Linked DNA regions of Homo sapiens. The protein of the gene in region 6 interacts with the protein of the main gene of each other region in a pairwise test. Each region holds a gene or a part of one and is shown on either strand. Other genes may lie near its edges. The genes, in order: MTMR8, PPP3CB, PTPN18, MTMR9, STYX, AATK and CDC14A.

What was found.
Region 1: the proteins of AATK (region 6) and MTMR8 interact in a two-hybrid assay, tested with the Homo sapiens proteins (one study listed by BioGRID and IntAct).
Region 2: the proteins of AATK (region 6) and PPP3CB interact in a two-hybrid assay, tested with the Homo sapiens proteins (one study listed by BioGRID and IntAct).
Region 3: the proteins of AATK (region 6) and PTPN18 interact in a two-hybrid assay, tested with the Homo sapiens proteins (one study listed by BioGRID and IntAct).
Region 4: the proteins of AATK (region 6) and MTMR9 interact in a two-hybrid assay, tested with the Homo sapiens proteins (one study listed by BioGRID and IntAct).
Region 5: the proteins of AATK (region 6) and STYX interact in a two-hybrid assay, tested with the Homo sapiens proteins (one study listed by BioGRID and IntAct).
Region 7: the proteins of AATK (region 6) and CDC14A interact in a two-hybrid assay, tested with the Homo sapiens proteins (one study listed by BioGRID and IntAct).

What each region holds. Positions count from the first base shown.
Region 1 is NC_000023.11:64,353,953-64,357,452, forward strand, and holds part of MTMR8 (phosphatidylinositol-3,5-bisphosphate 3-phosphatase MTMR8), read right to left. Parts: intron 2,387-3,500; coding exon 2,224-2,386; intron 983-2,223; coding exon 825-982; intron 1-824. UniProt on the Homo sapiens protein: Lipid phosphatase that specifically dephosphorylates the D-3 position of phosphatidylinositol 3-phosphate and phosphatidylinositol 3,5-bisphosphate, generating phosphatidylinositol and phosphatidylinositol 5-phosphate.
Region 2 is NC_000010.11:73,440,525-73,444,024, forward strand, and holds part of PPP3CB (serine/threonine-protein phosphatase 2B catalytic subunit beta isoform), read right to left. Parts: exon of another isoform or gene 3,265-3,500; intron 1-3,264. UniProt on the Homo sapiens protein: Calcium-dependent, calmodulin-stimulated protein phosphatase which plays an essential role in the transduction of intracellular Ca(2+)-mediated signals.
Region 3 is NC_000002.12:130,362,556-130,366,055, reverse strand, and holds part of PTPN18 (tyrosine-protein phosphatase non-receptor type 18), read right to left. Parts: intron 1-3,500. UniProt on the Homo sapiens protein: Differentially dephosphorylate autophosphorylated tyrosine kinases which are known to be overexpressed in tumor tissues.
Region 4 is NC_000008.11:11,287,816-11,291,315, reverse strand, and holds part of MTMR9 (myotubularin-related protein 9), read right to left. Parts: intron 1-3,500. UniProt on the Homo sapiens protein: Acts as an adapter for myotubularin-related phosphatases. Increases lipid phosphatase MTMR6 catalytic activity, specifically towards phosphatidylinositol 3,5-bisphosphate and MTMR6 binding affinity for phosphorylated phosphatidylinositols.
Region 5 is NC_000014.9:52,736,666-52,740,165, reverse strand, and holds part of STYX (serine/threonine/tyrosine-interacting protein), read right to left. Parts: intron 1-3,500. UniProt on the Homo sapiens protein: Catalytically inactive phosphatase. Acts as a nuclear anchor for MAPK1/MAPK3 (ERK1/ERK2). Modulates cell-fate decisions and cell migration by spatiotemporal regulation of MAPK1/MAPK3 (ERK1/ERK2).
Region 6 is NC_000017.11:81,119,009-81,121,221, forward strand, and holds part of AATK (serine/threonine-protein kinase LMTK1), read right to left. Parts: coding exon 1,193-2,213; intron 1,076-1,192; coding exon 928-1,075; intron 573-927; coding exon 372-572; intron 1-371. UniProt on the Homo sapiens protein: May be involved in neuronal differentiation.
Region 7 is NC_000001.11:100,359,006-100,362,505, reverse strand, and holds part of CDC14A (dual specificity protein phosphatase CDC14A), read right to left. Parts: intron 1-3,500. UniProt on the Homo sapiens protein: Dual-specificity phosphatase. Required for centrosome separation and productive cytokinesis during cell division. Dephosphorylates SIRT2 around early anaphase.

The DNA.
Region 1 (3,500 bases), on a different chromosome or scaffold from region 6:
ACATATGCACAATAGAATATAACTCAGTCACAAAAAAATGTAATCCTGTCATTTGCAACAACATGGATGGAACTGGGGGACATTATATTAAGTGAAATGAACAAAGCATAGAAAGACAAATATTGCATAATCTCATTCACATGTTGTAGGAGCAAAAAAAAAAAAAAAATGAACTCATGGAGACAGAGAGTAGAATGATGGTTACCAAAGGTTGGTAAGGGTAGTGGAGTGGGGGGGATAAAAAGAGGATCCTCAACGGGTACAAAAATACAGTTAGATAGAAGGAATAAGATCTAGTATTCAGTAGCAAAACAGGACGACTACAGATAACAATAATAAAATAACTGAAAATGGAATTGGAATGTTCCTAACACAAATAAATGATAAATACTTGTGGTGATGGATACCCCAATTACCCTGATCTGATCATTACATATTGTATGCCTGTATAAAAATATCACATGTACCCTATAAATATGTACAACTATTATATATCCATAATAATTAAAAATAAAAAATGTTAAAATAAATTAGCCTTCACAAGGCTACTCTGCAAAGCATCAGGTTGTTTCTGGCTTCCTTAGGCTGATTTTCATGCCCTGCACCTATGCTCCCATAACACCCTATGCTTTAGGCCATGAGATCTCTTACTCAGTGCCTATTGCACTGTAGGTACTCAATAAATGTCTGTTGAATGGCTGAATGTTGAATGGAAAGGAGAGAGAGATTATGAGTCATTTCTCTCTTTTTTCAAAATCTTGTTTCCTGATATTCTACCATCTTAATTAAATGCACCAAAAGGCAAACAACAAGGACAAAATTACCTCATAGTTTCTGTTGGCATCTGTTATGGTCCAGTTTCTGTTGGGTATTCCCATACGCCCAAAGTCTGATATTGGGTCAATCAGTTTCCATCCACTTTCCCTCATCTCTTTTGAGGATTTGGGATTATAAGAAAAAGCATAAAGATCTTCAGGTAATGCTGGAGAAGAGAGATAGGCATGGAAAACAAAATGATGAATGAAACCTAAAAATCATCAAACAATGCAAATAAAGGCTAGATTTCCTTTTCCTAAGGGAATGTTTGTCAAACAGCCCCAGAAAAGGACTGTGGTGTGTGCAAGTTTGCCTTTATGTAAGGAATAAAAACTGGAATATTGTTTGGGTTCTTTGAAAAAATGTTTTAATTTTTTGTGTTATCAATACGAAGTGGGATCTTTCTGCCTGGCTTCCTATAAAAAAAGAATGCTGGATAATTGACTGAACTGAGGCTTCAGGGTTTCACATGTTAAGAAAAGAGTCCTTACCAAAAGTTTTTAACTGGGCTCCCATGTCCTAATAGTACTGCTTATTGTAACATGTTGCACATCTTTAACAATGTTTTTGCATTGTACTTGTCAGACCAACAGCAACTTCTGACTTATAAATGGCCCCTTCCTCTCTTTTCTCTGTCAGTCCTGCTTCCTCCCTTCACGAGATACAGCATCCAATCAAATAACTCATTTGACCAATTTATATGGCAACAACTTCTCCAGAGATTAATGGAGCCTATCAGAGACTTGTAAAATGCTAGGCCATCCAGCAGGTAACTTTATCAATAAAAATCAGCAAATATTGAGGAATTACTCTGAGGGAAAAGGGGAAAAATGGGAGAGAAAATGTAAGAGCATGATTAAAATCAAAGACTAAAATCAGAGGAAGCTGGTTAATTGCCTAGGGGTGGGGGCTGGGGAATGAAAGGGTGATGCTGGAGGAAGCATTAAGTCCTACATTAATGAGGACTTTGATGAACTGCCTTAGTCTTCTAGTTGGAATTAAAAGTAGGGGTGGAAATCGTGGGCCAAACAAAAAGTCTGCAGGACAGCAGGAAACAAATTTTCTTCCAAAGCAGTCTTCCTTCCTGAACTGAGAAAACATTCACAAGTTGATACTTTAAAGGAGGGAAGGAGAGAGAAGAAAATATCTATTAAACATCTACTATATACTAATACATGAAGGTATTCAAGGCTCAAAACAATCCCCTTGAAGAGCTTTTACTCTCCTTACTTTTACAGGTAAAGAAAATGAGTTCAGAGGTTATATAACTTGCCCAAATATAATGGAGCTAATAAGTGGTACAGCCCAGATCCAAACCCTCCTCTGACTCCATAGCCCTGATCTTTCCATTATGCCATTTTGGAAAAATATTAAAATGGTTTTAGATAAAAATACTATCATAACTACCTGGCTGAGAAAGCTTGAGCAGTGAAATATAAACCTCATGGCACACAAGGTCAGAATCTAAAACAAAGTGGGCCACCCGGAAATTCTTGCAGCGGAGGGTCAGGGGACAACCCAGGCTAGTGATGGGTAACTTCTCCACAGTGGCAATGTGATGGAGTGCAATCTGAAAAACATAAAAGAACCAGCGTAAACATACAGATGTGCAATATCTCTATCACTATCAGTATTCCTGACTCTCCGTAATGGTAACAGCATGACCAGATCTGTAGGCTACATCTACAGCCTACAACCATTCTTTGTAAGACACAACTGGGGTTCTCTCAAATAGAACTAAAGCATAATAGTGGTAAAGCAACAAGAAGCAGACTGCAGTGTTAGAAAACTTCTCTCTCCTTAAGGATACGAGATTACCAAGTTTGTGGGACAATTTTGGTAGATCAGCTCAGAATAGATGACTTTTAGCATGCTGTGATAGAGTTCACAATCAGAATAATTGTTACAGAGGAAAACAGGAATTTTTTTTCTTATATCAAATTACTAATTAAGATAATTATTAATAGCAGGTATTGTGCCTTATCATAAACAAAGTAGTCCATGACCATTAGCTATTTAAGAAGAGCCATTTGACGTGTAATCATCCTATTTCAGGAATGAAAAAAAAACAAAGCTCTGAGAAGTGAATTCCTCATCAGATATCATATAGCCAAGAAGTGGCACAAACAGAATTTGAACCATAGCAGTCTAAACTTAAGTCCAGGATTAAGTTCTGGAATAAGGATTTAACTAGAAATGTTAGGGAGGAACTATTCCTCTACATTTTAAACTCTAGTGACAGTAAAGCAAAGAATGTAGGATGATTACTTCTGTTCATGCTGATGCCAGCAAAAAAAGAAATGCATGGAAAGGGAACTGATGAAACAAAATGTGTCCAAATAATATAATTCTCTCTTAATTGATTCAAAAAGCCATATAATCATGGTTTTGCATTTTGATCTTTGATGTTCTCCTCCTATCCCTGTCTTATGTTTCTGCAACTATGGAGCCTGGATGTGCTCTTTCCATTCTCTAGACTCCCTGTCCTGTGCCTGGAATGGTCTTCCAATCAATAGTGCCTTTTCTGCTCTCCCATCACCTCAATGCCCCAGTCCCTAATTTCTTTGGAAAAGTCATCTCTTCAATGAAGTCTTTCAATCATATCCACCATCTAAGAATGGAGCAAGTGTGGAAATGATTCAGATATTCCTAGGATAAATTTTCTATTTTTTTTAAGGCAGGGT
Region 2 (3,500 bases), on a different chromosome or scaffold from region 6:
GGCTCTGTTCTTTGTGGGGGACCTGAAAGGACTTCTCCTGTCTACCAGTAACTTCCTTTCTATTCTAGTACTGATGTTCCAAATACCTACAGATACTAACATCTATAGCCTTAAAAAATTCCATTTATACTGACAGAGTTTATCATGAACTCAAATTTGCCTCAGAAAAAGACTACTGAGCATCTTTTCAAACTCATCTACCAATTAAAGAGACATTAAGGAAGAGAAGTGAGGTCTTACAGGCATAAATTCTAATTATTTCATGATATAGACACATAGGTCATATTATAAATAAGAAATACATTATTGGTATAGTGTGTCACTGGTCCATTTAGAGAATTTCACCATAATTAGTCAAACATTTTATAGTCAAAGATTCTTTTTTTCGCTCATTTCTGGGTTTGAACTGTATAAAGAGCTCACACTGAGGACCAGGACTCAAGATAGCACACAACAATACTGGTTTACAATATTGTCCATTCCCCTTATTACTCAGAATATTTGTAAAAGTAATGCCCTGGTCTCTCCTATTTTGCTTCTTCTGCAATAAGGCCAATTAGAATAATTATTCCTGAAGTGATCTTTTAGCAATTAACATGATTTAGAAATAATTTTATCCAAAGCAATTATTAATGTAAAAGAAACTGATGAATCTAAGGTATTAAAGTGAACTAAGTTAGAAAATGTTGATCTTAACCAGACAGTAAAGTGAATTGGGGACCCAAAAGAATTAGGACGAACACTGAATAAAGGAAGAGTTAATTTTCCTTAACTGTTAAACTACATTACAAATCGGGCAGGACATGGAAGATCATGCCTATAACCCCAGCACTCTCGGATGGCTGAGGTGGAAGGATCCCTTGAGCGTTTGAGCCCAGCCTGGGCAACACATAGAGAGACCTCATCTCCCCCCAAAAAAAGTTTAAAAAATTAGCCGGGCATGGTGGTGTGCATATGTAATCCCAGCTACTCGGGAAGCTGAAGCAGGAAGATCACTTGAGCCCAGATTGCTAATTGCAACACTCTATCTGAAAGGCACTATTTCTCCTCTATTTGTTTTCAGTTATATAGGGCATCTTGTCATGGCCTTAATAAGTTTGAGCATAGTGCTATCTCAAACTGTGTTCCTCAGTACTATGCAAGATAAATGACCAAGAGGAATTTGGTATTACTAACATAGAATTGGCCACATATATTTCCCATATAGATCCTGGTGAGGGTAGCATTACAGTGCTAGCTCCCAATCAAATTTCCCAGAAAGAAAACATACATAAAATAAAGATGAACAGAAAATCCACCTCCAATAGAGTTGTGCAGTTTGTAAAAACACTCAAGAAACATCATGTAAATTAACTTTTAAAGTTCTTGAAACGACAATTTTTATTTTCTGACAAATAGGCACGAGGTCTTAGAATTAAAATTTTTTCCTTTTGCAATACCTAACTCTCAGTTATACACACTAACATCAGGGAACATTATCTACTAAAATTTAAAATGTAGGATAACTTTTTAAAAAATAATCACAAACATGCAGCTTTTGTATGACCTTTGTTATTTGTTTCAAAGTGGATTTATCTTATGCTAGGAAAATAATTTTGACCAAATGCCCAAACCACACTATCAAGAGCTAGCAAAACTAGAAGCTATCTAGTTTAAGGGGTCCCAAATTAGACCCCTTAAACTCAATTCCTTCCAGTAACTTAGTCCATGCTGAGAATAGAGAGTCCCTCCAGCAAAGCTGCTGTCTTTCAAACCTCCCCTGCAGTTGAGGGTGGTTTCAAAGTTGAAGGAATGAGCTTCAAGCCGTGTACAAATTAAGAATAAACAGAAGTCAACAAAGCATGTAATTAGCAGGGGCTAATCGTGAAATCTGAAAGCAAGGTTTGCTGCGGATACAATATAAAAGTAATGTTATATCCAAGGATAACTGAGAGATGACTATACTGTAGATTTATTTAAGTATGATACCCTTTTGGTTTTATTTTTCTTTTCTGAACAAAGAAGAGTATAATATTTTTGAAGCTATTAAAGTTCATCCTTTTCTATTAACATTTTTACTAGTTTTATCAAATGTTTAAGATCTTGTTTTAATGTACATTCATGAAATTCTTTTTAGTTCATTTTTCTAATGTTTACAATATAATAAGAAAAATGGAGGGCAAGGAATGTAAAGCAAATCAAAGCAGGTTGTTTTTTTTTTTTAAAGAAAATCAAAAAAAGAAACCTCATTCAGAATGAAAATTTATAATTTCAAAACACAGTGTACTTTTCAGATATACCAGTGGTGGTAGTGAACAATACAATGACATTTAAAATAGAACATGTATAGGCTACAAGTAAAAATTGTTTACAGGAAAAAAATTTTTTTTATTGAAAAGCAATCATTGGCCAGGCATAGTGGCTCATGCCTATAATCCCAGCACTTTGGGAGGCTGAGGTCAGAAGATTGCTTGAGCCCAGGAGTTTGAGACCAGCCTGGGCAATACAAAAATATAAAAAAATAAAAAATAAAAAAAATAAAAAAAATTAGCTGGCTGTGGTGGCATGTGCCTATGGTCTTAGCTACTTGGGTGGCTGAAATGGAGGACTGCTTGAGCCCAGGAGGTTGAGGCTGCACTGCACTCCAGCCTGGGTGACACAGCAAGAAACCAGACCCTGTCTGTCTCTCTCACACACACACATGTACACATGCACACAAAAAAAGAAAGACAGAGAGAGAGAGAGAAAGAGAGAGAGAGAGAGAGAAAGAAAGAAAGAAAGACAGAAAGAAAGAAAGAAAGAAAGAAAGAAAGAAAGAAAGAAAGAAAAAGAAAGAGAAGAGAAGAGAGAAAAGAAAAAAAAAGAGCACTTATTATGGAACCAAGTGAAATGAAATTGTGAAGTCAAATGTAAATTCATTCAAAACGTTAAAATTGCCTATTTTTTTCCCTCTAAAAAAGTCACTAATTACAACACCAAAAAGAAACCTAATTATGACTAAGGAAAACATCAGATCTGTTGCTATTTTAATAGACAATGACCCTTAGAGGGCTGTCAAAAGTGACTACAAGAAATTCAGGCTTTTCCACATCATGTATTTTTGCTTTCCAACCACAGGAAAAGAAATCTAGACTGAATTACTGTGTATGGTCACTAATACTCACATCACTCTCTTCTATTTAATCTGTAATGGGCTTTTAAAAAGTTAACCCAGTATTTACACAAATATTTACGCCAAAAAAAGTTTTTTAAGTATAAAATATTCAATGAGCCAGATTACAGGAATGCTTTACGTATAATTCTTTTTATTTTCATGCAAAATAAAGGCACACTTAATAACACCCTTTCAATTTTGACTTACAGGATTTAAATTCAACCCCTTATAACAATGACTTAATATCTAATGTTACATTCATGTTCAGAATGCACAAAGTGCAGCAACAAATGCAGCAAACCTCAAAACAAGGTGCTACAAAGCTGCTTCTACATTGCAAGACAGACAAGTGTCTGATGGAGTAATT
Region 3 (3,500 bases), on a different chromosome or scaffold from region 6:
ACCTACCCAAAATAGCCAAAACAATCTTGGAAAAAAGAACAAATTTGGAAGACTCATACTTCCTGATTTCAGAACTTCTACAAAGGTATAATAATCAAAACTATGTTACACTGGCACAAGGATAAACACATCAATCAGCTTAATAAAATTGAGAGTTCAGAAATAAACCCTTATATTTATGGCCAATTAATTTTCAACAAAGGGGCCAAGACGGTTCAATGGGCAAAGCATAGTCTTTTCAACAAATGGTGCTGGAACAACTGGATAGTCACATGCAAAAGAGTGAATGTGGACCCCTATCTCACATCACATACAAAAGTTCATTCAAAGTAAATCTGAGACCTAACTGTAAGCAAGAAAACTATAAAACACTTAGAAGGAAGAACAGGAGTAAGTCTTTATGACCTCTGATTAGACAATGACTTCTCAGATACACCAAAAGCACAGCAACACAATAGATTGGAATTAAAGTTTCACAAAATGTTTGTGCTTCAAAACACACCATCAAGAAAGTGGAATGACAACCCACAGAATGGGAAAGACATTTTAAATCATGTACTGATAAGGGACTTATATACAGAATAACGCTTACAACTCAATAATAAAAAGACAACCCCAAATAGCCCAATTTTAAAATGAATAAATGACATGAATAGACATTTGGCCAGAGAAGATATACAAATGGACGAATAAGCACATGAAAACCAAAACCACAATGAGGTACCACTTCCCACTCATTAGGATGGCATATATGTCATTGTCATATGCCACATAATGATGTTTTGGTTAACAACAGACCACATATACAATGGTGGTGCCATAGATTATAATGGAGCATATGTAGAAACCTGATACATGGCACTTGATATTGACACTGCATATTAAGTTGGGGAAATGATTGATACTCAGTAATGGTGCTGGGACATTTGGTTTTCCATATGAAAAATATATAAATAAAAAATGTATATACTATCTATGTTTGTGTAAGTATACTCTATGATGTTTACACAATGACAAGATAGTCTTAACAATGCAGACCATATCCCTGTCATTAAACTACACATGTCCCTCCCTCCCTCTCTCTCTCTCTGCTGATGGGAACGTAAAATGGTACAGCCACTGTGGAAAACAAAATGTTGAACATAGCGTTATCATATGATCCAGCAATTCCATGCTAGGTGTATACCCAGGGAACTGAAAACAGGGATTCAAACAGATACTAGTATACCAATTTTTTGTTGTTGTTGTTGTTGTTGTTTTGAGACGGAGTCTCGCTCTGTCGCCCAGGCTGGAGTGCGGTGGTGCGATCTCGGCTCACTGCAAGCTCCGCCTCATGGGTTCACACCATTCTCTTGCCTCAGCCTCCCGAGTAGCTGGGACTACAGGCGGCTGCCACCACGCCTGGCTAATTTTTTGTATTTTTAGTAGAGGTGGGATTTCATCGTGTTAGCCAGGCTGGTCTCGATCTCCTGACCTCGTGATCTGCCTGCTTCGGCCTCCCAAAGTGCTGGGATTACAGGCGTGAGCCACTGTGTCCAGCCTGTATACCAATGTTTGTAGCCGCCTTATTTACAATAGTCAAAAGGTACAAACAACCCAGATGTCCAACAGGCGAATGGATAAACAAAATGTGATATATACATACAATGAAATATTATTTGGCCTTGAAAACAGTGAAATTCTGATACACACTGCAACATGGATGAACCTTGAAAAAAGGACAAGTATTGTATATTAGTGTATTCCTGATTCCACTTGCATGAGGTACCTAGAATAGGCAAATTCATAGGGACAGAAAGGAGAATAGAGGTTACCTGGAAATGGGGGAATGGGGAGTTATTGTTTAATGAATACAGAATTTCTGTTTGGGATGATGAACATGTTCTGAAAATAGACAGTAGGAATGGTTAATCCATTGTGAATGTACTTAATTCAATTGAATTGTACACTTGAAATGGTTTAAATGGCAAAATTATTTTTAACATTCCTCACAGCACCTATAAACTGGCAAATTTTATGTTATGTATATTTTACCACATAATTTAAAGAAAGACACAATGGCATACCACTTCACAACCCCTAGGATGGCTATAATTAAAAAAAAAAAAAAGACAGTAACAAGCATCAGGGAGAAGAAATGGGGACCCTCAAACATTGCCGTGGAAATGTAAAATGATGCTGCCACTGTGGAAAACAGTTTGGCACTTCCTCAAAATGTTAAAAATAGAGTTTCCATATAGCCCAGCAATTCCCAGCAATACCCAAGAGACATGAAAACCCACATCTACACAGAGACTTGTATATCAGTGTTGATAGCAGCACTGTTCATAATAGCCAAAAAGTAGAAAGAACCCAATTTCTGTCAACCAATAAGTAAAATGTGGTAGATCCATTCAATGGAATAGTATTCAGCAAACAAAACAAAACAAAACAAAAATGCTAAGCAAAAAAAGGCTACATATTATGTGATTCAATTATATGAAATGTCCAAAGTAAGCAAATGTATAAAGGCAAAAATAGATTAGGGATTGTCTGGGGCTGTAGAGGTTGCTGGGAAATGGGGAGTGACTGCTAATGGATATAGGATTTCTTTTCTTTTTCTTTTTTTTTGAGAGACAGTCTTGCTCTGTGGCCAGGCTGCAGTGTAGTGGCACAATCTCAGCTCACTGCAACCTCCAACTCCCTGGTTCAAGCTATTCTTCTGCCTCAGCCTCCCGAGTTGCTGGGATTACAGGCACATGCCACCATGCCCAGCTAATGTTTGTATTTTTAGTAGAGACGGGGTTTCACTATGTTGGCCAGGATGGTCTTGATCTCCTGACCTCGTGATCCACCAGTCTCAGCCTCCCAAAGTGCTGGGATTACAGGCATGAGCCACCATGTCTGGCCTGGATTTTTTTATGGAATGATGAAAATGTTCAAAAACTTATTGTGGTAGGCCGGGCACGGTGGCTCATGCCTGTAATCCCAGCACTTTGGGAGGCTGAGGTGGGCGGATCACGAGGTCAGGAGATTGAGACCATCCTGGCTAACACGGTGAAACCCCGTCTCTACTAAAAATACAAAAAATTAGCCGGGCGTGGTGGCAGGCGCCTGTAGTCCTAGCTACTCGGGAGGCTGAGGCAGGAGAATGGCGTGGACCCGGGAGGCGGAGGTTGCAGCGAGCTGAGATCGCGCCATTGCACTCCAGCCTGGAGGACAGAGCGAGGCTCCGTCTCAAAAACAAAAACAAAAACAAAAACAAAAATCTTACTGTGGTAATAGTTGCATAGCTCAGGAATATAGAAAAATGATGGAACTGTACACTTTAAATGACTGAATTGTATATCAATAAAGCTGTTTAAAAAGATATTCTAAAACAACTATAATAGCAGTGTACTGTGGAGTATATTTTATATATAGAACTATAATATATAGTAACAATAGCACAAAGCATGGAAAGGGGTAATCGAAATATACTACAGTAAAGTTCTGACATTTTACATGAAATGTAGAATATT
Region 4 (3,500 bases), on a different chromosome or scaffold from region 6:
CTCAGCTCCTAGTACAGCACCTAGCATATACACCATCTTAAAGTTCCACTAAGGGACTTAAAGGAAGATCTGAATAAATAATGTAACATTGTTCATGGATGTCAAGATGTCAATTTGACTCCAATTAATCTATAAATCCAAAACAATTCATTTTTTTAAAATCCTATGAAAATTGTATAAAGTCTGTGGTCTAGTTAATAGTACTGCACCAATGTCAATGTCCTAATTTTGTCCTCATTTTGATTACACTACAGTTATAAAACAGGTCAACATTAGGGGAAGCTGAGTGGACGATTCTAAAACCTCTATGTGCAATTTTTGCAACTGCCTTTGAGTCTTCAATTATTATTAAAGACTTTTAAAAATCCCATGAACATAGCAAGTTTTCCAAAATTGCATGGAAACATAAAGGTCGAAACATAGTTGTCAACTTTAAAAAAAAAAAAAAAAAACGAAAGCGGGGCAACTAGCACTATCCGATTTTTGGACACATCACAAAGCCACAGAAGGAAAGAGAATATGATGATGACAAAAGAGCAGATTAATGAACCAATGGATTATGACAGAGAGCTCAGAAACAGACCCGTATATATAGGATAACTTGACATAAACCAGCCAAGGTTGGGTTGTCACGTGATGGGATTAAGAAAACTGGCTTGCTCTATGGAGAAAAATAGGTTCTTATCACACTTGAAACAAAGATAGAATCCAAATTAAAGACCTAAAAATGAACAGTAAAACTATGAAGCTATTATGGAAGAAAATGTAGGAGAACATCCTGGTGATTTGGGGACAGGGAAGGAGTTCTTAAGACAAGCCACACACCATAAAGCAAAACATTGGCAAGTTCTGCATTAAAAGTAAAGATTTCTGTTCAACAAAGGGCACCACAGAAAAAAACAACAGATGGGTGACACACTAGAAAACATTCGTAATGCCTAAATGGAGAATGAACACCCACAGAGTATACAAGGTACCCATGCAAATCAACATGAGAAGGACAATAAACCCAATGTTTAAAAGTAGACCACAGAAATTAGGCAATTCACAAAAAGGAAAAAAAAAAATTTTAAGTATACTGCTCACAAGCATATACAAAGATAATTAAACACTAATAATTAATGAAATTCAAATTAAAACAAAGCAATAACTATTTCACAATCTTCAGACTGGAAAAATTAGAAAGACAATACCAAATGTTGGTAAGAAAGTGGAGACGAGGTACCCTCTCCTGCACCATCATGGGAAGGCAATGTGCAATTGTCATCCTGGAAAGCAATTAGTTTGTGAAATGAGATACGCACCTACTTTATGGCGCCATCCCATCCTAGGGGCAGTCTCAGAGCAATTATGGCACAAGACTATATAAAGGGACATGAATGAGTATGTTTACCAGAGTTGTTTGTGATAGCAGGGAGTTGGAAGTTACCTAAAAGGTCTGTTAAGGAAGCTCTTTTAGATACTTTGGAATCCTATGCTGTCAGAAGCAGTGAAATGGTTGTACACACAGCAATATGAAGAGATCTTGAAACAGTATTGTGTCACCATATTAAGAAGCAGAACAAGATCTACAACATAATCCCAGTTAGGCAAATTAAACTCACACATGCATGTGTGCGCACACCCATACACAATAGTGCTATCTATTTTATAGCAACAACTAACGTGGTTGCCTACAGGGATTGTGGATGAGGCAGGAAACGGGAGTGAAAATTAGGGAGGAAGAAAATCAACAACAGAGGAAACCTTTTAAGGAATCAATCATGAAAATGATGAGTCATCAACTGAGTAGTAGTAACTCAATTTTCTGAGGTCCATTAAAAAAAAAACCAGGTATAACTGTAAAACTTGTATACAACCTTGCATGTTGAAAGGATCAAATAAAATGATGTAAGCGATATATATGAAAGTATTCCACAGACTTGTGAAGCATTATTTAAACTTAAGTTTCTACGAGGTTAAGTAGTTTGCCCAAAGGCACTTGTCTAGTAAGAGGCAGAACTGAAGGAGTTACCCTTAATGACTTTCTCACCTCATTTACAATTCACCAGCAAGGCAAGGCAGCTCCACTTTCAAAAACACATCCCAAATCAGATTCCTTGTGACTACACTACTGTTTTTTGTTTGTTTGTTTGTTTGTTTTGAGACAGAGACTCACTCTGTCACCCCAGGGTGGAGTTCAGTGGTGCAATCTCAGTTTACTGCAACCTCGGCCTCCCAGGGTGAAGTGATTCTCCTGCCTCAGCCTCCTGAGTAGCTGGGATCAGAGACATGCACCACCAAACCCAGCTATTTTTTGTATTTTCAGTAGAGATGAGGTTTCACCATACTGGCCAGGCTGTGTCGAACTCCTGACCTCAGGTGATCTGCCCGCCTCGGCCTCCCAGAGTGCTGGGATTACAGGCGTGAGCCACCGTGCCCGGCCTACCATCATCTTTTATGTGAACTACTCTACTCTCCAAGCTGGGCCTGCTGCTTCCAGTCTTGCCCCCCTACAGTTTATTTTCTGCCAGCAGCCAGAATTGTCTTCTGAAACATCTATCAGCTGCTGCTTCCTAGCTTTCACCTCTCCAAGGGCTCCCATGAAAACCATTACTGTGGCCTGCAGGCCCTCCACGGTCTGACCACTGCTTATCCCTCCAGCCAGTCTCTACCATCAACTTCCTGTACTCTCTGTTCCCTGCCCTGCAGCCACACTGGCCTCTTCGCTCTTCTCTGCACATGCCAAGCATGTTCCCCATCTCAAGTCTTTGTATTCGCTGTTCCCTCTGGCTGCAATGCTCTTCCCCCAGACACTCACAGTTCTAGCTTCCTCATTTCATTCCGGTCTGTAGTCAGATGTCACCTGCCTTCTCTGAAATCCTTTCTAAGGAAACTGCCTCCCAGTGCTCTTTATCCTCTCATCTTCCGTTACTTTCCTTCCTGGCCCTTATTACCTGACATCATTATATATATATTATATATATATAAATATATTATATATTTATGTATATATATTATATATACATATTATAATATATATTATATGCTATATTATACTATATTATAATATATAATTATTATAATATAATTATTATTATTATATATTATAATTATTAATATATTATATATAATAATTACATGTATTAGGTGAATAGGTGAATAAATAATTATTCACCTATTCGCTGAATAATTAGGTGAATATTTAGGTGAATAATTATTTAATATAATTAGGTGAATAATTATATATATTATATAGGTGAAATATAATATATATTATATAATACGTATTATATAATATATATTATATATCATACGTATTATATACTATGTATTATATGTAATATATATTATATAATACATATATAATACATAGTATATAATACGTATGATATATAACACATATTATATAATATATAATACATATTATGTTATATATAATACGTATTATATATGTTATATATTATAATATAATATATAACATATATAATAAAATATATAATGTTATATATTATATATTA
Region 5 (3,500 bases), on a different chromosome or scaffold from region 6:
AGCTGGGATTACAAGCGCCCACCACCAAACCTGGCTAATTTTTGTATTTTTAGTAGAGATGGGGTTTCACCATCTTGGCCAGGTTGGTCTTGAACTCCTGACCTCATGATCCACCTGCCTCGGCCTCTCAAAGTGCTGGGATTACAGGCATGAGCCACCGCGCCCAGCCTAGATTCTTTAACTTACCAATGTGTTATGGTAATCTTTTTATATATGAGTTTTTTAGCCAGGTATGGTAGCTCACACCTGCAATCCCAGCCCTTTGGAAGGCTGGGGCAGGAGGATAGCTTGAGCCCGAGTTCAAGACCAGCCTGGGCAATATAGGGAGACCTCATCTCTACAAAAATTAAAAAATTAGCCAGGTGCGGTGGTGGTGCATGACTGAGGTCCTAGCTACTTGGGAGGCTGAGGCAGGAAGATCACTCGGGCTTGGGAGGTCGAGGCTGCAGTGAGTCATCATGGTGCCATTGCACTCCAGCCTGGGCAACAGAGACAGACCCTATCTCAACGAAAAAAAAAAAAAAAAAAAAAAAGAAAGAAAGGAAAAAGAAAACAGTTTTTAAAGACTTTAGGCCAAATACTCTTTTTAGTCATGGTACCCCTAATGATAAGCACAGTGCCTGACACAGAATAAGCACAAAATAGATGCATTTCAGAGATCTACTGCACTAAATGTTATTGACTTTTTTCTTTTTAAAAGATTCTCAAGTAGTCTAACAGCCAGCCTTATCTTCCTGAAGCAACTTGTCAGAGCTGTGATAAAGAAGAAAATCAATTAAAGAAATGAGTACTTTTGAATTTATCTAAAGTGAAATCACTAAATTTTGTGTAATTAAAGAAAAAAAAACAGGGCAACACATATCAAGGAATGGTGTAAATATATTCTGGGAAATACTTGTGTAAGGCAAGGAAGACTTTCCCTCTACCATCAGGATTCGATAACAGTCTATGAAATAAACTAAATGGAGAAAATGTATACAAATTTATTATGTGTATGGGAGTATCACAGGAAAGAAAAGTGTATACCAAAAAAAAAAAAGTGGTATTTTTAAAAAGTGTATACCAAAAACAAACAAAATCCGTGATATTTCAAACCAGTCTATGAAATAAACTAAACGGAGAAAAGGTATACAGATTCATTATGTGCATGGGGGTATCACAGGAAAGAAACGTGTATACAAAAAAAAAAAAAGTGATATTTAGGAGTTTATATACCCTTTATATAGCATGGGGGTAGAGGTATACAGGCAATTTAGAAGAACAATTCTGGAGAAAGATAAATGGGCCCTTAGAATAATAATAGATGATACTTTGTGTCAGTTTGTCTGGGTGTGGTGCTGACTTTTACTCTCCTCTCCAGTGATAAGAGACAATCTTCCCTGGTTGATCAAACTCCCTAGGAGCAAACTGAGCTTCTTTTGGAGGATCTGTCCTTAGGTAGGTAACAGGAGTTCAGAGAAAGTGTTTCTTTGCATTTGCTACTTTGCAAGTGTTTCCAACTTAAAGTAATCAATATATCAAGGTGTCATATTTTGGAGTGGCATTTCCTCAACACCTTCATTTGGCAATATGCCAAAAGACACTCAAAGCCACTGAAGTATCAATTTTATCAAAAAAATTCTTTAGGGAGAAACAGTATTTTCACTGGTTACTAATTTAAACAATTTTTATATTAAAACAAACAGGCACATATGGGATAGAATGCAAAATTTACCTGAACCTTTTAGCAAAACAAGAGGCTTCAAAGAACTTTTGAGCTTTCCATAAGGTTATATGTAATACAACATGAAAGACTCTCTTGAGATATATATATATATGGAAGATATTATAAGAGGGAAAAGCAAGTTGTATAGTAGGAGGGAATGAAAAATTATTCCTAGTCACAGGACAGATAAGAAGCCTTCTTCAGAGAACATTAGTAATTACTGCAATAGGTATGGATCCTTTGAAACCTAGAAAGCTTTCTCTCACAGAAAAGTTCATTTGGAACTATTCCTGGTGTTATCATCAGATGCTGATCTCAGAATCCACCTTCTTTGCTGCCCTAACCCAGATTACCACCTACAGAACAAACCTTAAACCTGCCTGTTGGCCGGGCACAGTGGCTCACGCCTGTAATCCCAGCACTTTGGGAGGCCAAGGAGGGTGGATCACAGGGTCAGGAGATCGAGACCATCCTGGCTAACATGGTTGACACCCCGTCTCTACCAAAAATACAAAAAATTAGCCGGGCATGGTGGCGGGCGCCTGTAGTCCCAGCTACTCGGGAGGCTGAGGCAGGAGAATGGCGTGAACCCGGGAGGCGGAGCTTGCAGTGAGTTGAGATCCTGCCACTGCACTCCAACCTGTTAAAACAAACAAACAAACAAAAAAACCCTGCCTGTCTATGGATCTTACTAACCAAGATTTTAAGTCTGAATGCTCATAGTCTTCTTCTACCACACATCCGTCTGAACACACGTCTAATAACCAAGTCTTGCCACTATCACACTTAATTCTTAATCTCAGCCTGCTCACACTACTCCTGAAATCTATCATTTTAGAAACCGTGGTATTAATGGAGGCATCTCCATATCACCAGCAATGATCTATTTTAAGTTACTATTGTAATTAATTAGTAGAAATCAATTTCCCAAACTTTATGAGTAGCCAAGCAGTTCAACCACATTAACCAAACCAAGGCAAGCCAGATAAACCAAAATAACCCTCTATTGTGAAACACCATGATTCTGAGACAAATTAATTCACAAGTGAAAATCTTTCGATCAACATGAGGTAGAAAGTACCACATGTTAAAACATCCTTCCGAATTATCTCCTTCCTTTCCATAAAAATGATCTATAAAACTGCATTTGGATAGAGAAAAGTTACAAAAATGTTCAAAGACCCTCAAATAAACACATCAATGAAGGATATAGACTGTAACCATTAGATAAAATAATTCTTATATGCATTGAAATATGAAATATGAACTTTTACAAATACAGTAGTCCCCCCTTATCCACAGGGGATATGTTCATACATTTGAGGATAGTGCTGAATCCTATATACACAATACTAAAATAAAACACAAATTGTACATAGGCTGGAGGTGGGGGGCAACAGTTTGGGGAAGAAAAAAAACATCAGAATACTAGACTTGCACTGGGACATTCCACAAAACAGAAAAGTTAGTATTGCACTTTCTCTCCTAGAAAAAATAGGTAAATCCCTCCAAAGTCCTTTTCCTTTCATTCCCACACCAAGCTTGAGCTTTGCTTAAATCAAAGGAGAAAAGAAAATGTTTCACTCAAATAAAAAGAGAAGGTGGGCAGGGACTGGAGGGGCAGAAGAGTACTCAAGTAAGATATTTTCTAAACCAGCAATTTTTAAACCTGACTGAACATTAGAATCATCTAGCTTCATTCAGATAAATTAAACTACAATAGGTGCTGGTAGGGTCCACGCATCAGTATTTTTAAAAAATTCCTTACTCTAGAGTAAGGGTTAAAAAGCACCAT
Region 6 (2,213 bases):
TGGGGCCGGGGCACCGTGGGACCTGGGTCTGCAGGGACTTCTGGCTGGGAAGGTTCCGGTGAGAGGGCCTGCCGCAGGTCTGCGGGGTAGGGTCAGGCAGAGGAGAGCCGAGTGCAGGGGCCAGGTGAGGGCCAGGTGAGGGTCAGGTGAGGGTCAGGTGAGGGTCAGGTGAGGGTCAGGTGAGGGCCAGGCGAGGGCCAGGCGGGGTCCAGGCTAGGTCTGGGGCCGGGAAGGAGCGGGGCCGGGAAGGAGCGGAGCGGAGCGGAGCCGGGGCTGGCCCGGCCCAGGACCTAGACGGAGGGGCCCCACCCTCGGAGCTCCGTGCCCTGCCTCCCGCGTGCCCTTCTGCCACAGCCCCGCCCAGGCCTCACCTCTCTTGGACTCGGCGTCCGAGTCAGACACGTGCGTGATGGAGAAGCGGGACGTGGGCGCGGGCGACACCGTGAAGCGCGAGAAGGGAGCGGGCGTGGGCGTGGGCGCAGCCGGGGCGGGTGCGGCCGGGTCTAGGGCCATGGCGAAGGCTGCCTTGGCCGTCATCAGCGGGAAGTCGTCGTCCCACGCGAACCCACCACCTGCAGCCCAGGTCGCGGCGTCACTCGCGCTCACAGCCTGGGACCCCGGCCCGGCCCCGCTCCCACAGTCACGGGCCCAGGCCCCGCCTCCCATCATGTCACGGGCCCAGGCCCCGCCTCCCATGATGTCACGGGCCCAGGCCCCGCCTCCCATGCAGCACGGACAAGGCCCCGCCTTCCGTGACGTCACGTACCAGACCCGCCTCCCATGACGACACGGGCCAAAGCCCGCCTCCCACGCGTCAAGGACCAGGTGCTCCTCCCATGATGTCACACATTAGGCCCCGCCTCCCACACAGCACGGACCAGGCCCTGCCTCCCGTGACGTCACGGGCCCAGCCCCGCCCCTGCTCACCCTCTTCCGCTGTGGAGCCATTTGGGGAGCCATCAGCCTGCTGCGGCCGGTTGGGGGCGCTGGGAGAGCCGGGGCTCCCCCTAAGGAACGTAGGGGGCGATTCCTTGGCGCCCGGGAAGGGCTCCCCGAGCTCCCGGGTGGGGCTTTCCTGGAGGAATCAGAGAGCACCAGGTAGCTCGGCCGCCAGGAGCCGCGGCCGCTCCCACCCCTTCCTGCGGGAGCGCGACCCCCAGCCCCGGGCAGACCCCGGGTGGCGGCGGCCCACCTGGTCAAAGAGGTAGACGGTGACGTCGTCGAAGAAGGACACGGCCTTCTTCTTGCGTTCCAGGTCCTCGCAGAAGGTCTCGGACAGCAGGCTGGGCATCTTGAGCAGGCTGCGCAGGTTGCGCGCGCTCTGGCTCTCAGCCACCACCACGGGCACCGCCGGCGCCTCCTCTTCGCTGTCCTCGCTAGGCTCCTGGACGCTGTAGCAGCGGAGCTCCTCGTCAGACTCGTCGCTGTCCTCACTGTCCTCCTCCTCCTCCTCCGGCCGGCCCTCCAAGGCCGCAGGGAGGCCGGGCAGAGCCAGGCGGAGTGGGGCTCTGGGGGTGCCTGGGCCCCCCATCCGCTTTTGTGGGGCCGGCCCTGACAACAGTCCTGGGGGCCCCTGGAACTCAGAGCTGTTGCCTTCTGATCTCAGCGGAACCGGGGTCAGCAGGAAAAACTGGGAGCAGCTGGGGCTGGGCCCAGGCCGCACCTTGGCTGGGCCTTGGGGCTCCGGAGGCTCTGGGACCAGGCCCGAGGGGCAGGTGCTGGGCTCTGGGGAGGACCCTTCAAGCTGCAGCAGTGGGGGCAGCACCTCCCCGGGGCCAGAGCCTTGTGCCTCCCCGGAAACCCCAGGCCTGAGACAGACCTGCTCAGACGGCTGCCCAGTGCTCGGCAGGCCCAGCTCTGGCCCGGGGGCTCGGTCCCCGCCGCACTTCTTCTCTGGGCCTGAGGTGGCCTCGGCCTCAGCCTCGAGGTCTGAGAAGTAGGCAGAGTCTCGGTAGGGATTCTTCTCGTTGAGGCCACTGAGGGAGGTGGAGAGCCGTGTCTCGGGCCCGGGGCCCTCACCCTCTGAGGCCAGCTCCGCAAAGGCCTGGGGCTCACACCCTTCCTGCGCCTCCTTGAGCACAAACTCAGGGGACTCATAGTTCTCGGTGTCATAGCCACTGTCCAGCGCTCGCGGCTGCCCTCCAGAGGGGCCAGTGGCCGACGGGCTGAAGACCTCATAGCCACCATCACTGGCTGAGGACGGGATGTCCAGG
Region 7 (3,500 bases), on a different chromosome or scaffold from region 6:
CCGAAATATTATTAATATAGAGACATTTATGGTGATTTTGAAAAATGGCATTGGTTTACAATGCTCATGTATGATTAAAAAAATCAGCATTTAAAACTGCATATACAAAATTATGCCAATTAAAAATTTATAGCACTGTAGGTTTGAATTTCTTCATTGTAGAAAAGCAATATTCTTTGAAAAATTAAAAAAAATATTTCTAAGACACAATGAATTTCACAATTCAGTATAAAAAATTCAGCTCAAATCACAAAGCCAGAAAGGAACTTGAGATCAGTTGTGCCACTTACCTCCCCACATTTTAAATATCCAGGACAGACACGGTCTATTTTCCGCTTAAAGATCACAAAAGACAAAGACTCCATTATAATGACCCCCTTTTTACTTCCTATCTCCAATCCTCAAAACAAAACAGAATAGCAAAAAGGCAGTTTCCTTCTGATTTACGTACCTCACCTACTTAAAGGTGTCCCTCTCTCCCAGTCACCCAAGCCAGAAACTTTGAATTCACCTTTGCTTCCTCCTCCCTACCCGCATCTGCTCAGTCCCAAATCCAGTCAACCAATTCTTTCCAGCCTCTCCCCATCTGGCCTTTCTTTCCCCACTGCTGCAACCCTAATCCAATTCTTCCATAGCCTAACTGACCCCACCTTCGAGCGATGGCAGCACTCGTCCTAAAGTAGAGCCCTGGTCACTCTCTGCCATTTACAAGCAAGCACAATTTACTGACATCCAAACAGTTTTCCACAATCCAGTCCCCAACTAAGTGACTGCTGCTGTGACCTGTGACTCCTCTCCATTCAAATATTATTACACCTCCTCTAACAGAATCTTGCTATTCCCAAACACCTCTTGTGCCTTTTCTCAGGACTCTGCCTGAAATCTTTTTCTTTCCTTTCTTCCTCATTCACTTACTCACTCATTCATTCATTCAACTAAAATTTCTTGAGCCCCATATCTATGCCAGGCACAGTGCTAGGTGTTGGGACATAATGGTGAGCAAAAACAGGTAGTACTGGTCCTCACAGAGATCATAAAATGTACTCTTTGCTATTATACACCCTTCAAAAACTAGCTCAGTGCTTATCACCCTGGGTAGCAATAATCTCTTCCTTTCTTGAACTCCTAACACATACATTTGCAGCTTTGGTCATGTATTATCCTGTACTGCATGTGTTTCTACTTCCTTCTTTACAAATACATATCTCCAAAGCATTAGTACAGTGTTCTGCATCAAAATCTATCCCATCTAAATACTAAGTTTCTTGTATAGCAATTTTCAACCACTTATGAAAGTTTTAAGTTATGCTTTTCACTTCCCATAAAAATGTGTCAAGAGTTTTGTGAGGCTTGTGTTTTAGTTTTTAGTTTTTTTGTTTTTTGTTTTTTGTTGTTTTTTTTTTTTTAAGCACAAAGGGGTATTGAGCTGTGGCTAAGTAAAAGTCATTTACTTCTGGCTTGGGAATGTGTTTATGAACTTACAAATGAGAACATCTGATGTCTTAGGAATCTACTTCAAACAAAATAATGAAGCCGCCCTGTGGTGACCTGGCACAGAAAGAACTTGGAAGGCTGACAGCTCCCCACTGGGATCTCCTGCAGCCCACTTGGAGCTCTCTCTCAGGCTGCATGATTATGACTAGCCCTGTTAAGATAACTCTCCTTAGCACCTCGGCTACATTTTTTGTTTTCACAGCCTTATCTCAAGCAAACTGAAAAAACAGAGTAATAATTTATCATTATGAAGATTAGAGATCAACTCTACACCGAATGCCTAAGAGGTCAAAACAGCAGATATTTAAATAAATCATTATCTAGAAGGTAAATTTGATTCCCCTGGATTACAGAATTAAGAACTGTGGGCCAGGCACGGTGGCTCACACCTGTAATCCCAGCACTTTGGGAGGCCGAGGCAGGCAGATCACTTAAGGCCAGGAGTTCGAGACCAGCCTGGTCAACATGGTGAAACCCTGTCTCTACAAAAAAATACAAAAATTAGCAAGGCATGGTGGCATGCACCCATAATCCCAGCTATTCGGGAGGCTGAGGTGGGAGAATTGCTTGAACCCCGGAGGTGGAGGTTGCAGTGAGCCGAGATTGCCCCACTGCACTCCAGTCTGGGTGACAGAGCAAGACCCTGTTTCAAAAAAAAAAAAAGAACTAACTATGAATGTACACAGATATATCTACTTCCTCTTAACATATACTACATCATAACACTGGCTGTCATGTGTTCAAAACAGAAGGTGAAAAAGGCTAGGCACAGTGGCTCATGCCTGTAATCCTAGCACTTTGGGAGGCCGAGGCAGGCAGATCACGAGGTCAGGAGATCAAGACCACCCGGCCAACATGGTGAAACCTCGTCTCTACTAAAAATACAAAAAAAAAAAAAAAAAATAGCTGGGTGTGGTGGTGCGCGCCTGTAATCCCAGCTACTCAGGAGGCTGAGGCACGAGAATCGGTTGAACCCAGGAGGCGGAGGTTACAGTGAGCTGAGATCGCACCACTGCACTCCAGCCTGGCAACAGAAGGAAACTCCAACTCAAAAAAAAAAAAAAAAAGAAGAAGGTGAAAAAAAGCAGCCCTGAACAATATTACTTTTCCAAGGTTTGGATGAAGAGAAGAAAAAGGGGGGAAGAAACTATAAACTACCATCTTTTAGAAAGTAAACAGTTTTCTGAGGGTTTTTTTTGGAGAATACCTTAAAAAAAAAAATCACCTTAAGTTACACCAGGTAAGCAGCCAGAACATTTCACCAGACAGCCTACAAAAGCAGTTATCATAGGCTTATAAAAACTGGGCTTCTTTCGTTTTCACGTGTCCTACAATTAACTCAATTTCTTTCCTCTCTTTCTTTTTGGTAGTGCACTGATAGGAAAAAAAAGGCAAAATTATACCCCCCAAAAGTGAAATTACAAAGAAAAATGTTTAAATTACCACCACACATTCCCAGATAGGAGCTGGTCATAGTTTGTGCATATACTGTCAGTGGCACATTTCCCCCAAGAGCCATCACCACCCAAGTTAGAGGGATCAAGTCTGTCAGGAAGGGGCAAAGTTGTCCCATACCCTCCCCATTGGCATCAGTCTCAGGCCAACTGGGAAATGCCTGGACTCCAGGGTGGACTGCCTCTGGCTTGCATCCCTGCTCTGCCTTACCAGCTCAGTGACCTTAGGCAATATACTTCCCTCTCTGGACCTCTACTTCCTCCTTTGTTAAGTAGTGATAATAACAGCATCTAACTCCTAGGCTTGTTCTGAGGATTAATTGAGTTAATGTGTGCGTGTAAACCACTTAGAACACTGCCTGGCACAGGGCTATACATGTTAGCTGCTGCTGCTGCTGCTGTTGTTGTTGCTATGGCTTTATTATTATTCCCACAATGAAATTTGTCTCGAGGTTCAACCAAATCTCCTCTTCTGTCTATATCATAGCAATTTATAATGAGAATTGAGGTTCTAAATGATGACCGTAAGGCTCTATCAGATCATATATATGT